Regions from separate parts of the Homo sapiens genome. Here all the other regions are linked to region 1. Evidence: fine-mapped expression QTL. A gene starts in region 1. Each other region holds a variant in brackets. All regions are shown on one strand. Distances are between the middles of the regions. Region 1 holds the start of RASL11A (RAS like family 11 member A). Region 2 has its middle 32 kb from the start of LINC00412. Region 3 has its middle 47 kb from the start of RASL11A. Region 4 has its middle 26 kb from the start of RASL11A.

Evidence for each region.
Region 2: its variant is fine-mapped to the expression of RASL11A in whole blood (TOPMed, PIP above 0.99).
Region 3: its variant is fine-mapped to the expression of RASL11A in whole blood (INTERVAL, PIP above 0.99).
Region 4: its variant is fine-mapped to the expression of RASL11A in cerebellum (GTEx, PIP above 0.99). The same link has a PIP of 0.9 or more in cerebellar hemisphere.

The regions. Positions count from the first base shown.
Region 1 is chr13:27,269,304-27,271,989 of GRCh38, forward strand. RASL11A (RAS like family 11 member A) reads left to right here and starts at 1,527. Exons shown (of 4, transcript NM_206827.2): 1 at 1,527-1,765; 2 at 2,181-2,237; 3 at 2,336-2,415. The coding sequence starts at 1,642. RefSeq lists an enhancer at 989-1,489 and silencers at 1,438-1,657, 1,698-1,927.
Region 2 is chr13:27,203,901-27,206,586 of GRCh38, forward strand. No RefSeq gene overlaps it. Among named protein-coding and RNA genes, the nearest start is that of LINC00412, 32 kb to the right of the region's middle. The variant T/C (reference allele first, on the strand shown) is at 1,177.
Region 3 is chr13:27,316,621-27,319,306 of GRCh38, forward strand. No RefSeq gene overlaps it. Among named protein-coding and RNA genes, the nearest start is that of RASL11A, 47 kb to the left of the region's middle. The variant C/T (reference allele first, on the strand shown) is at 1,362.
Region 4 is chr13:27,295,422-27,298,107 of GRCh38, forward strand. No RefSeq gene overlaps it. Among named protein-coding and RNA genes, the nearest start is that of RASL11A, 26 kb to the left of the region's middle. The variant C/T (reference allele first, on the strand shown) is at 1,339.

The DNA.
Region 1 (2,686 bases):
GAGACATGTAACTCAGTCACTACCCTCCCTCATCACAGCCAACAGCTGCCAGACATGAGTAAGGCTATCCAAGGGCAGCCAGCCCCCACTTCCAGAACCTGGAAGCTCCCTGCAGATGCATCAAAGGGCTCAACAACTGTAAGTGATTGTTGTTCTAAGCCATCTAGTTTGGTGTGGCTTGTCATGCAGCAAAAACTGGTACAACCAGGGTAGAGAAAGGTATGAATTAGGGTGGGGCTGTCTAATAGGCGATTAGGCAAGTGAGGCTGGAACACAGGAGGTCAGAGGCATGAAGGTCTTCTAACTGTTCAAGGTTAAAGTCCTGAGGCTTCTGCTGTGCTATTTCTGGTGGGCTCCAGAAATCCAAGAACCAGTCTATAGCTCTGTGTCCTGTTCCTCACACTGCCCCCCACCCCACCCTAGACCCCACCATGCACCTAGAAGTAAATATTTGGATACTGAAGCAAATGCATGACTCAAGCACATAGGATAGTATTAATGATGGACACTTAGTGCAGGGCCAGGGCCCCCAGCCAGTGGAGTGCTCATGAGTGTTCAGGAATGAGCCAGTGCAACCCCTGCCTGCAGAGGAGGGGCTGGGCATGGATACTGAGATGCTAACCATCACTGCCCCTAAGGGGACTTCATCTATCCCTAGCAAGGTCACAGTGACTGCAGTTGCCTCCACTGATACTAATTCAGAGCTCTTGCCCCCCGCCCCCCGCCCTTTTCCCATATTAATGTTACCCCTTAGCATCTTTTCTTTTCTTTCTTTTTTTTTTTTTTTTGAGACGGAGTTTCGCTCTTGTGGTCCAGGCTGGAGTGCAGTGGTGCCATCTCGGCTCACTGCAACCTCCGCCTCCCTAGTTCAAGCGATTCTGCTGCCTCAGCCTCCCGAGTAGTTGGGATTACAGGCGCCCACCACCACGCCCCGCTAATTTTTGTATTTTTAGTAGAGACAGCGTTTCGCCATGTTGGCCAGGCTGGTCTTGAACTCCTGACCGCAGATGATCTTGCCCACCTGGGCCTCCCAAAGTGCTGGGATTACAGGCGTAAGCCACCGCGCCCAGCCCCTTAGCACCTTTTAAAAATAAAAAGGGCAGCGTTTTACAGCAATCTGTCCCATTGTTGCAGAAACATCCAACTGATTGCACTTTTTCTTCTTCTCTCGTCAACTCGTAACTCCTATCTCAAGTTCACCCACAGGTCTAGTGACTCCGGCTGGCTGCTGCGGGGCGAGGAGACTCGCAGAATGCCTGACTAGAGGCCACTCGCGCGCTCTGGACGGTGGCCGTATCTCCAGGGTCTGAGCCCCGGAGCCGCAGTCCTGCCGCAGAGCGCCTGGAGCCGCGAGCAGCTAGCAGCCCGGCGAAGCGCACAGCCTCGGCGATAGTCAGCTCCGCGGCCTCTGCTCCCGCCCCTCCCGGCCGCTCCGGGAAGGGGCGGAGACGAGGAGGAGCTGGGACGGCCGCCGCGCTCCCGGGCGCACCAAGCCCTTTAAAAGCCGCGGGCCTTGACAGTTCTGCAGGCAGCCGCCGCGGTCCCGGACCTCTAGTCCCGCACTCCCAGCTGGCGAGCCGGCTCCGGGTGCGGCGAGGCCCAGCCCTCTCGGATTGCGCGCCGGACCCCGGGACGCGCTCCATGCGGCCGCTCAGCATGTCCGGGCACTTTCTGCTCGCACCCATCCCCGAGTCCTCCTCGGACTACCTACTGCCCAAGGACATCAAACTGGCGGTGCTGGGCGCCGGCCGCGTGGGCAAGAGCGGTGAGTGCGGCGGGGACCCCCGGGCGGCTTCGCTCCCCGGCTCCGGCCGCGACCACTGGGGGCGCTGCGGAGAGAGGGCGCCTCGGCCGAAGCAGAGGGCGCGGGTGCAGGTAGAATCGGGCTGCTTTCGCGCTGGGTGGGTCCCGGTCCGTCCCGGCCTGCTTCCCTGGCGTTTCCTGGTGCATCTACTCCTGGGATCTCGGCGGGATTGGCGCCTGTTCGGGGATGGGGTGCGGGAGAGGTGTCCCGCCAGTCGTACTCGCGGCCAAGCCCGCGGCACCACGGCTTTGCGGAGCCTCTGGAAGCGAGCAGTGCCCACGGTTCTGCACCCTTCACTCCCCCCAGTTTGTCCGAGGTGCCTGGGTTTGACAGGCTTGTTCTACTCCTTCGGTTGATTTTCCTATTTCCTTTTCAGCAATGATCGTGCGCTTCCTGACCAAGAGATTCATTGGAGACTATGAACCGAATACAGGTGAGAATACTTTCACGCTCCCTGCTTTTATGCTTGCGTGTTTCTTTTTACGGATGGGAGTTTGAGAATTAAAAAGCAAACTCTACTTCATTCTCCAGGCAAGCTGTATTCACGGCTGGTCTATGTCGAGGGGGACCAGCTCTCCCTGCAGATCCAGGATACTCCCGGGGGCGTCCAGGTAAGAACCGCCAGGGGCAAACAGCTCACCCCCACCCGTGAGACCACCCCAGTGGGCACAGCACGTAGGGCGCCCATGCTGGGCGCAGGGGTCTGAGCAAGGCATCTAAACCGACCTGTGCGTTTAGAGGGAGGAATGGGCTGTCCACAGGTGGGGCCAGTGGTTGGGGTGTTAGAAACTCTCTAAGGGGGAGGCATGGTTAGAAGCAGCCTCCTCTTGTTAAGCACCTGACTTAACTTCACTTTGCAACCCTGGTGGGCCATCACTACTT
Region 2 (2,686 bases), 65 kb before region 1:
TCAGAGTTACATTTCATTGTAATTATTTTAATTGCCCCCTCACTCCAGTCTCCTTGAATCTCCCCCTCCTTCATACCTTCAATGATGGGCACTGGCAATGGCTACCATTTTAGACTCGAGGTTAGACTATGACTGAATTGAAGTCATCATGCAATGGTACAGCAGTTAATAGGAATTTTGTGGGTGCCCTCTGCTGGGAACATAAGTATTTCACCTGGCAAAAGGATAAGGGTGAATGCTTGAGGGGATCCCATACTGGATAACTTCCATTTGCCCCATCTAGCTGTCTTCAGACCAGGGAGGCAGACCTGTATGGACCGCAGCAATGGGCTCTCTTGCCCTCTGCATTCTGGTTAGATTCAGCCAATAGAAAACATGGGCAGGAGATCAAAGGATGGAGAAAAACGAAGTTGAGGTCACTATTTCCAATTCCTCCCTTGCTGGGTCACTACGGATTGACTGTGTCCTCTACTAAAAGCTTTTCCCTGGGTTTTGGTGACCATTCTCTCCATTTGCCCCTCCACCATTCCGTTATTAACTTGGGTATACCACACCATTCCCTGTTACTTTCACAGAACCCTGCCTACACTTTTGTAATAGTACCTTTGGGGTTTTCTGTTTTTCTTTTTTTTGAGACAAGGTCTCACTCTGTCACCCAGGCTGGAGTGCAGTGGCATGATCACAGCTCACTGCAGCCTGGAACTCCTGGGCTCAAGTGATCCTCCTGCCTCAGCCTCCGAAAGTGCCGGGATTACAGGCGTAAGCAATGCACATGGCCTATAATATTGTTAAACTGCCCTTGATTACCCAGTTTGAAGGCATCATCTGCTTCCTGCCAGGAACGTGCCAGATACAACCAGGGCCTGTGCATGGCCCTGGGGTTAAAAAAATAAAGAAGACCTGGTTCTCAACCTCAAGGAATTTGTGCATCTTATAGTTGAAACAATTACGTAGAGAGATACATAATTCAAATGACATGTAACAAAATGCATAACAGGGGTATATGTGAGGCATGCTGTTCTACCAAGGAGAAAGTGATCAGCTGTGCTTCCAGATGGGGGTGGGCACGGGGGAACAGGATCACTGTCCCCCGCTCCAAGATGAAAGATTTCAACTGGGTCTTAACAGATAAGTGGAAAGTTAGGAATGCCTCCTCTACACATCCTCACAAATTAG[T/C]TGGTTCTTTGATTCACCCAGGTGGCAGAAATGCCTCCAGCAATGTCTTCAGTGTGACAGGACTAAAGGAGAGGGAGTTCAGAGAAGAGACATGTTCCACACCACTCTAAGAGAGAGGCAGATGTCAAGAACAGAGGCTGTGAGGAGGTGAGGCAAAGAGCAGCTTCCCTGCCATTTTCTACACTATCCTGCCCCACAATGATGATCTCAACTCCCATTGTATATCCTAGTTGCACTCAGACCTGGGCAACCTCAACATGCAGACCCCTTCCTGAAGGCAGCATAATTCTTAACCCCTACTAAGGAGGAATGACACAATGGGCTAACATTTAATAAGTTTATTATATCCTTACCAGACGAACAATCTATGCGGAATAGAGGGGACAAAGGAACATGTTAAATAACACCATAAAGTTATAATCAGCAAAATCTAAACTGTGGGAAGCCCTACAGTATCAACTGGTTTATCCCAAAAATAAATTGCAAGGGAAGCAAATGGTTTTGAAGAAACCCAAAGATTAAAAGAGGTCTAAAAGGGCCATGTGCAGTGGCTCATGCCTGTAATCTCTGCCCTTTGGGAGGCAGAGGCAGGCGGATCACTTGAGCTCAGGAGTTCGAGACCAGCCTGTGCAACAACATGGTGAAACCTCATCTCTACAACAAATACAAAAATTAGCCAGGTACGGTGGCATGCGCCTGTAACCCCAGCTACTCGGGAGGCTGAGGCAGAAGAATCACTTAAACCTGGGAGGTGGAGGTTGCAGTGAACTGAGATCGCACCATTGCACTCAAGCCTGGGCAACAAGAGTGAAACTCCATCTCAGAAAAAAAAAAAATAATAATAATAATGGCTAAGCCCTTCCTCCAGAGATTCTGATTCAATTAAACTGGGCTTTGGGTATCACTTTTTAAAGTTTTCCAGATAATGCTAATGATTTCTTAGAGGAATATTTTTAGGACCAAGTGACACAGTCAATTATTTCCAATTAATTAATGATGCATTTGAATCAACCATTCAATCATGTATTCATTTATTCAGTTTTCAACTCTATTGACTGAATGTTCTATTTCAGAAAAATTATGTCTATGAACTTTCCATTTTTTAAATAGTTTTTACCATCTCCTAAAAATGTTTACCTTTTTTTTCCGCTGGATTTTCATTGGTTAACTACATAATGAAATTAAACTCTGAACAGCATCTTTCCCACAAATTTCACACTAAGCGCTTTTTCTAGAACTAGACAATAGCAAAGAAGAACAAAATTAAATAGTCTAGACAAGGAAGAAAAAAATCTATTTTCAGTTTATATTTTATTAGCAGTAGCTTGTCAGTCAGATGATATGTTAAAATTACCCAGAATAAAAAAGGAATGAGGCCAGGTGCGGTGGCTCTCGCCTTTGGGAGGCCAAGGTGGGAGGATCACTTGAGGTCAGGAGTTCAAGACTAGCCTGGCCAACATGGTGAAACCCCGTCTCTACTAAAGATACAAAAATTAGCCAGGCGTGGTGG
Region 3 (2,686 bases), 47 kb after region 1:
GCAAAGGGAACCAGCAAATGCTTTGCAGGCACTGGTGGGGAGGATGGGGAAAGGGAGCTAGGTTTCTTGTTTGTCTCTCCAGAATGCAGAACAACGATCCATGGGTGAGAGTTACAGGGAATGAGTTTCAGCTCAAGAGAAAGAAGAACTTTGAAAGTTACAATGGCCAGTGGAATGGGTGTTCTCATGAAGCAGTGGGTTCCTCCACACTAGATGTGCTCACACACCTGGCTGTCCACTTGCCAGAGGACATCATAGTAGATCGGCATCCAGTTACATGCCCTTTAAAGTCTTTTTTGCCTCCAAAAGTAATTGACTGGTTGATTGATTAACCGCAGAAGATGTCCCGAAGAAGGGTAACTTAGATTTAGAATGAAATAAACCCCAGGATTTAGTACAGTGGAGAGGGGCAGGGCCAGCCCTCAGCTGAAGAACAGTGTTGGGATGTGATGGAGAAGATGTGTTAGGGGCAACGACTGGAAGAGAGCAAATGTTTATGTCCAGAGCAAAATTCTGTTGTCAGAAATGGGGCTTTGTATGATGATGGATGTGTTCACTTATCCATTCACTCCACAAATATTAATTTTCTGGTATATTTATATAATGGAGTACTATACAACAGCAAAAAATAAATTAAGTACAGGCTGGGCACAGTGGCTGATGCCTGTAATCTCAGCACTTTAGGAGGCCAAGGCAGGAGGATTGTTTGAGCTTAGAAGTTTGAAACCAGCCTGGGCAACATAGCAAGACCACATCTCTACTAAAAATTAAAAAAAAAAAAAAATGCCAAGCATGGTGGTGTGTGCCGATAGTCCCAGCTACTTAGCCTGGGGTGGGAGGATTGCTTGAGTCCAGGAGTTTGAGGCTGCAGTAAGCTATGACTGCATCACTGAATGCCAGCCTGTGCAACAGAGTGAGACACTGTCTAAAAAAAGTAAATATATAAAAATAAATAAACTACAGTTGCTTGTATCAACATGGATGTATCTCAAAGTCATAATGTTGAATGAAAAAAGTAAGTCACAAAAATATAGAGCAATGTATGATTCTAGGAGTATACAGTAGAAAAAAAAAGCAAAATTAAACAACATGTTGTGTAGAAATGCATACAATTGTGAAATACTCTTCAAAAAACGCAAAAAATGATTGATATAAAGTTCAGTATGCAGGTACCTCTTGGAGGAGGACAGGGCTGTGCTCAGGGGAGAACACACATGGGCTTCTAAGATGCTGGTAAAGGTCTGTTTCTTAAGCTGGTTGGTGAATACACATGTGCTTATTTTATTACCCTTAAATCTACATATATACACTTCATGCAGTCTTTTGAATGTAGGACATGGCCATGGTAATAAAAAGAAAAA[C/T]AAAGAATAGATGAGCATTTAAATTGAGAGGGCACACCAAGTCTTAAGCCAAAGAGTTATAAGTAAATCCACACAGACGCAGCGGAGTACAATAGCAGAACATCAAAAGCATAGAGAAAATCTTCCACACCGCTAGAAAGATAGTAATCTAAAAACCAATAATACTGGGCCGGGTGCGGTGGCTCACGCCTATAATCCCAGCACTTTGGGAGCCCAAGGCAGGTGGATCACCTGAGGTCAGGAGTTCGAGACCAGCTTGACCAACATGGTGAAACCCCGATTCTGCTAAAAATACAAAATCAGCTGGGTGTGGTGGTGCATGCCTGTAATCCCAGCTACCCTGGAGGCTGAGGCAGGAGAATCGCTTGAACCCAGGAGGTGGCGGTTGCAGTGAGCCGAGATCACAGCATTGCACTCCAGCTTGGGCAACAAGAGCGAAACTCCATCTCAAAACAAAACAAACGAACAAACAAAAACCAATAATACTTCAACTTACAGCAGACTTACCTGCAATAATAGATGCCTTCAGTGACCTAAATGGTATCTTCAAACTGCTGAGAGAAAATAACCACAAACCAGAATTCCTTACCTGTGAATTCTACCCAAGGTATAAGGTGTAATAAAAACATCTTTAGACGTAGACACCAAGAGAGGTCACCCCTCACAAAACCTCACTGGAAGAACTACTGATGGAAGTTTCTTTTTTTTTTTTTTTTTTGAGGCAGAGTCTCACTCTGTCGCCCAGGCTGGAGTGCAGTGGCATGATCTCAGCTCACTACAATCTCTGCCTCCCAAGCTCAAGCCATCCTCCCACCTTAGCCTCCTGAGTAGCTGGGACTACAGGTGTGTGCTACCACACTCAACTAATTCCTGTATTTTTTTTTTAGAGGTGGGGTTTCACCATGTTGCCCAGGCTGGTCTCAAACTCCTGGGCTCAAGTGATCTGCCTGCCTTGGCCTTCCAAAATGCTGGGATCACAGGCAGTTAGTGAACTGTTGAAACAGTGGTACAAGAAATTGATCATGAAGAGTCTTGAAAGCCGTAGAAGGATATTGCGTTTTATTTTCAGTGCAATGAGAGTTCTTAGCAAGCAAGTCAAAGACATGATCTGTCTTTCTTTATTTTTATTTTTATTTTTGAGATAAGGTTTGGCTCTGCCACCCAGGCTGGAGTGCAGTGGTGCTATCACAGCTCATTGCAGCTTTGTTCTCCCAGGCTCAAGCAACCTTCCCACCTTAGTCTCCCAAGTAGCTGGGACTATAGGTGTGTGCCGCCACCACACCCAGCTAGGTTTTTAAAAATTTTTTTGTAGAGATGAGGTCTTG
Region 4 (2,686 bases), 26 kb after region 1:
TCATCCACCCGCTGATGGCACGGCCATCCCTAGAGGCAAAAGGAGTCTCAGGCTGGTCATCACACTTGGCATTCTGGAGTGTTCAAACATTTTTCATGAATGCTAACTCATTTAGTCATCAAAGAACCCTGCGATTTAGGCAGAGTGAAGCTATTATTTTCATTTTCAGGAGGAAACTGGGGCTCAGAAAGATGAGGTGCCACGTGCAGGGTCTCATAGTAAGGATGAGGGAGCACAGAGATGAGAGCCTTCTTTCAGTCACCACTCCTACGCTCTCCCAAGCCTTGGGCAAACATTAAGAACTCTGTGCCCTTGGTTGTCCCGTCACCAGCATTAAACTGGCTTATCTGGTGACATAGTAAGATTTTGACAGCAACCACTTATGCAGTGCTGATGATGATCCAGGCACCTTTCTATGTAAATGCTGTACATGGATTCACATCTAACACCCTTATGACGTTAAGTCCTGTTATTGTCACCTGCACTTTACAGATGCAGAGACTGAGGTGTGGAGAAGTTATATCGCTGGCCCAAGATTACACAGCTGTCAAGAGGCAGACTCAACCTTCACACCCAGGCAGTCTGGCTGCAGGCTCTGCTCTCTTTGCTACTATGCCATAACTGCCCCTCACTGAGAGGCCTCTGTCTGTGGTCAGGATGGTCAAGACCACATGGAGGCCAGGAAGGTTGTTACCTGCCACAGGGACAGAACCATTGTGTCCTTCCAAAATTCATAATTCAAAACCTTCCCCACTAATGTGATGGTATTGGGAGGTGGGGCCTTTAGAGGTGATTAGAATTAGATGGGGTCCTGAGGGTGGGGCCCTCATAGCGGGATTGGTGTCCTTATAGGAAGGGACACCAGAGAGCTGGCTTCCTCTCTTTGCCCCGTGAGGACACGGTGAGGAGGTATAATCCAGGAAACAGGAGGAAGACCCTCCCCAGACATCGAATCTGCCAGAGCCTTGAGCTTGGATGTCCCAGTAACCAGAATGGCAAGAAACTACTGTTATGTAAGCCGCCTGGTCTGTTGTGTTTTGTTATAGCAGCCGGGCTGACTAAGACGACTGCCATCCCCCCCCACCAAGTGAGCACTCTGTGCCCCAAATCAAGCCCTGGAATGCCCCGAAGTCTGAGCTCCCTGGAGCCCGAGCTCCTATCCCTCCAGCTAGCATCAGCGGTTCCTGGTGTCCCTCCATCTGGTTTGGCTTCACATTCCCAGCAAAGCGGTCCAAACTAGGTCAGTAACAGCAGGAGCGGGTGGCCTGTGCTTCCTGCATCCTCCTGCTCCCTGAGCAATCTGGTCCAGTGGCTGAGAACAGTATCTCCTCAGGCTGC[C/T]GCAAAGCCCTGCTGAGGAGGACAGTGATTCAGGCTGAGTGTGTCTTAATGGTTCTGTCTGCTCCTTCTTTGCATGTATCAGAGCCTGCTGCTCCGAAGAGGTTTTCAAGCTCACGGAAACAATGGGGCTGGCAGTTTTCAGTACAGAACTTGTGCTCACCAGAGGGGAAAGGGCTCTTAGGGCAGTGAGAACCCAGGGTATGCCAGGGGAGCTTCCAACAGCAGAGAGAAAGACCTTGGATATTTGTAGCCTCAGCTCCTCACCGGCTGTATGACCCTGGAGAGTATAGTCATCACAGTAGCACTTATGGGCCACTTGTTATGAATCAGGCCCTTTGCTAAGCATTTTACATATATGGTCTCATTCAATCCTCACAACGACCTGGGGAGAGCGCCTCATTTTATGGATAAGGATATTGAGGTCCAGGGACAAGGAGGCTGAGTTATTTGCTCAAGGTCATACATTTAGTAAACAGCTAGGATTTGATCAAGATTGTTCCTTGTTCTCTCTCTCCTTTCCTCCCTCCCATCCTCCCTATCTCTCTCTCCTTTCTTTCCTCTTTCTCTTCCTTCCACTCAACAAATATTTGTAGCATCTGTCTGACGCTATGCCAACGGGGAGGTACAGTAGTGAACACGACATTTTGGTCCCCACCTGAGGCTAACTACGCTCTGTTGTCTCCCAAGCCATTTAAGCCTTTTCCTGCCAAGCCCCACATGGAGAAAGCGACCCCTGTGAGGCCCCCACTGGGGTTCAGAAAGCAATACCCCAAAGTCTGGCACTTTGATATGCGGAGAGGACTTAGAAGCTGCCCAAGAATCAAGGTCCCTGTAACCTTACCTTGTCCTCTTCCCCCTACCTACATCAAGTGCAGAGAAGAGCTCTCTGAAATTTCCTTATCTGGCCAATAAAGCTTCTTTCCAAAGGATATGAAATTGTTTTAAGACCTCCTGCCTAGGGATCCCATCAAGTAACCAGGAAAAATAAACTGAAAGAGAAGAGGCTGGGTGTTATCAACACACCCAGACAGATTTTTCATCTATTCCTTTGAGGCCAGCTCCAAGAGATGACTTGGGAGATTTTGTCTGCATAAGACACCTTTTGTTCCTGTGCAGCCCCATCCCTCACCTTCCCTAATGCCTGCCTCCCACCTCCCAGGTCCTTAAGTCTCTTCCCTATGAAGAGAGTACTTAGGCCTCAACCATCCGGCCCTCTTTGAGTTCATATTGTGTATGACTCCTGTGGGCACACATGCATGTAAATACATTTTACATGCCTGTTTCCTGTTAATCACCTTTTGTCAGTTGATTTTTCAGCAAACCTTCAGAGAACAAAGGAAAATTTTCC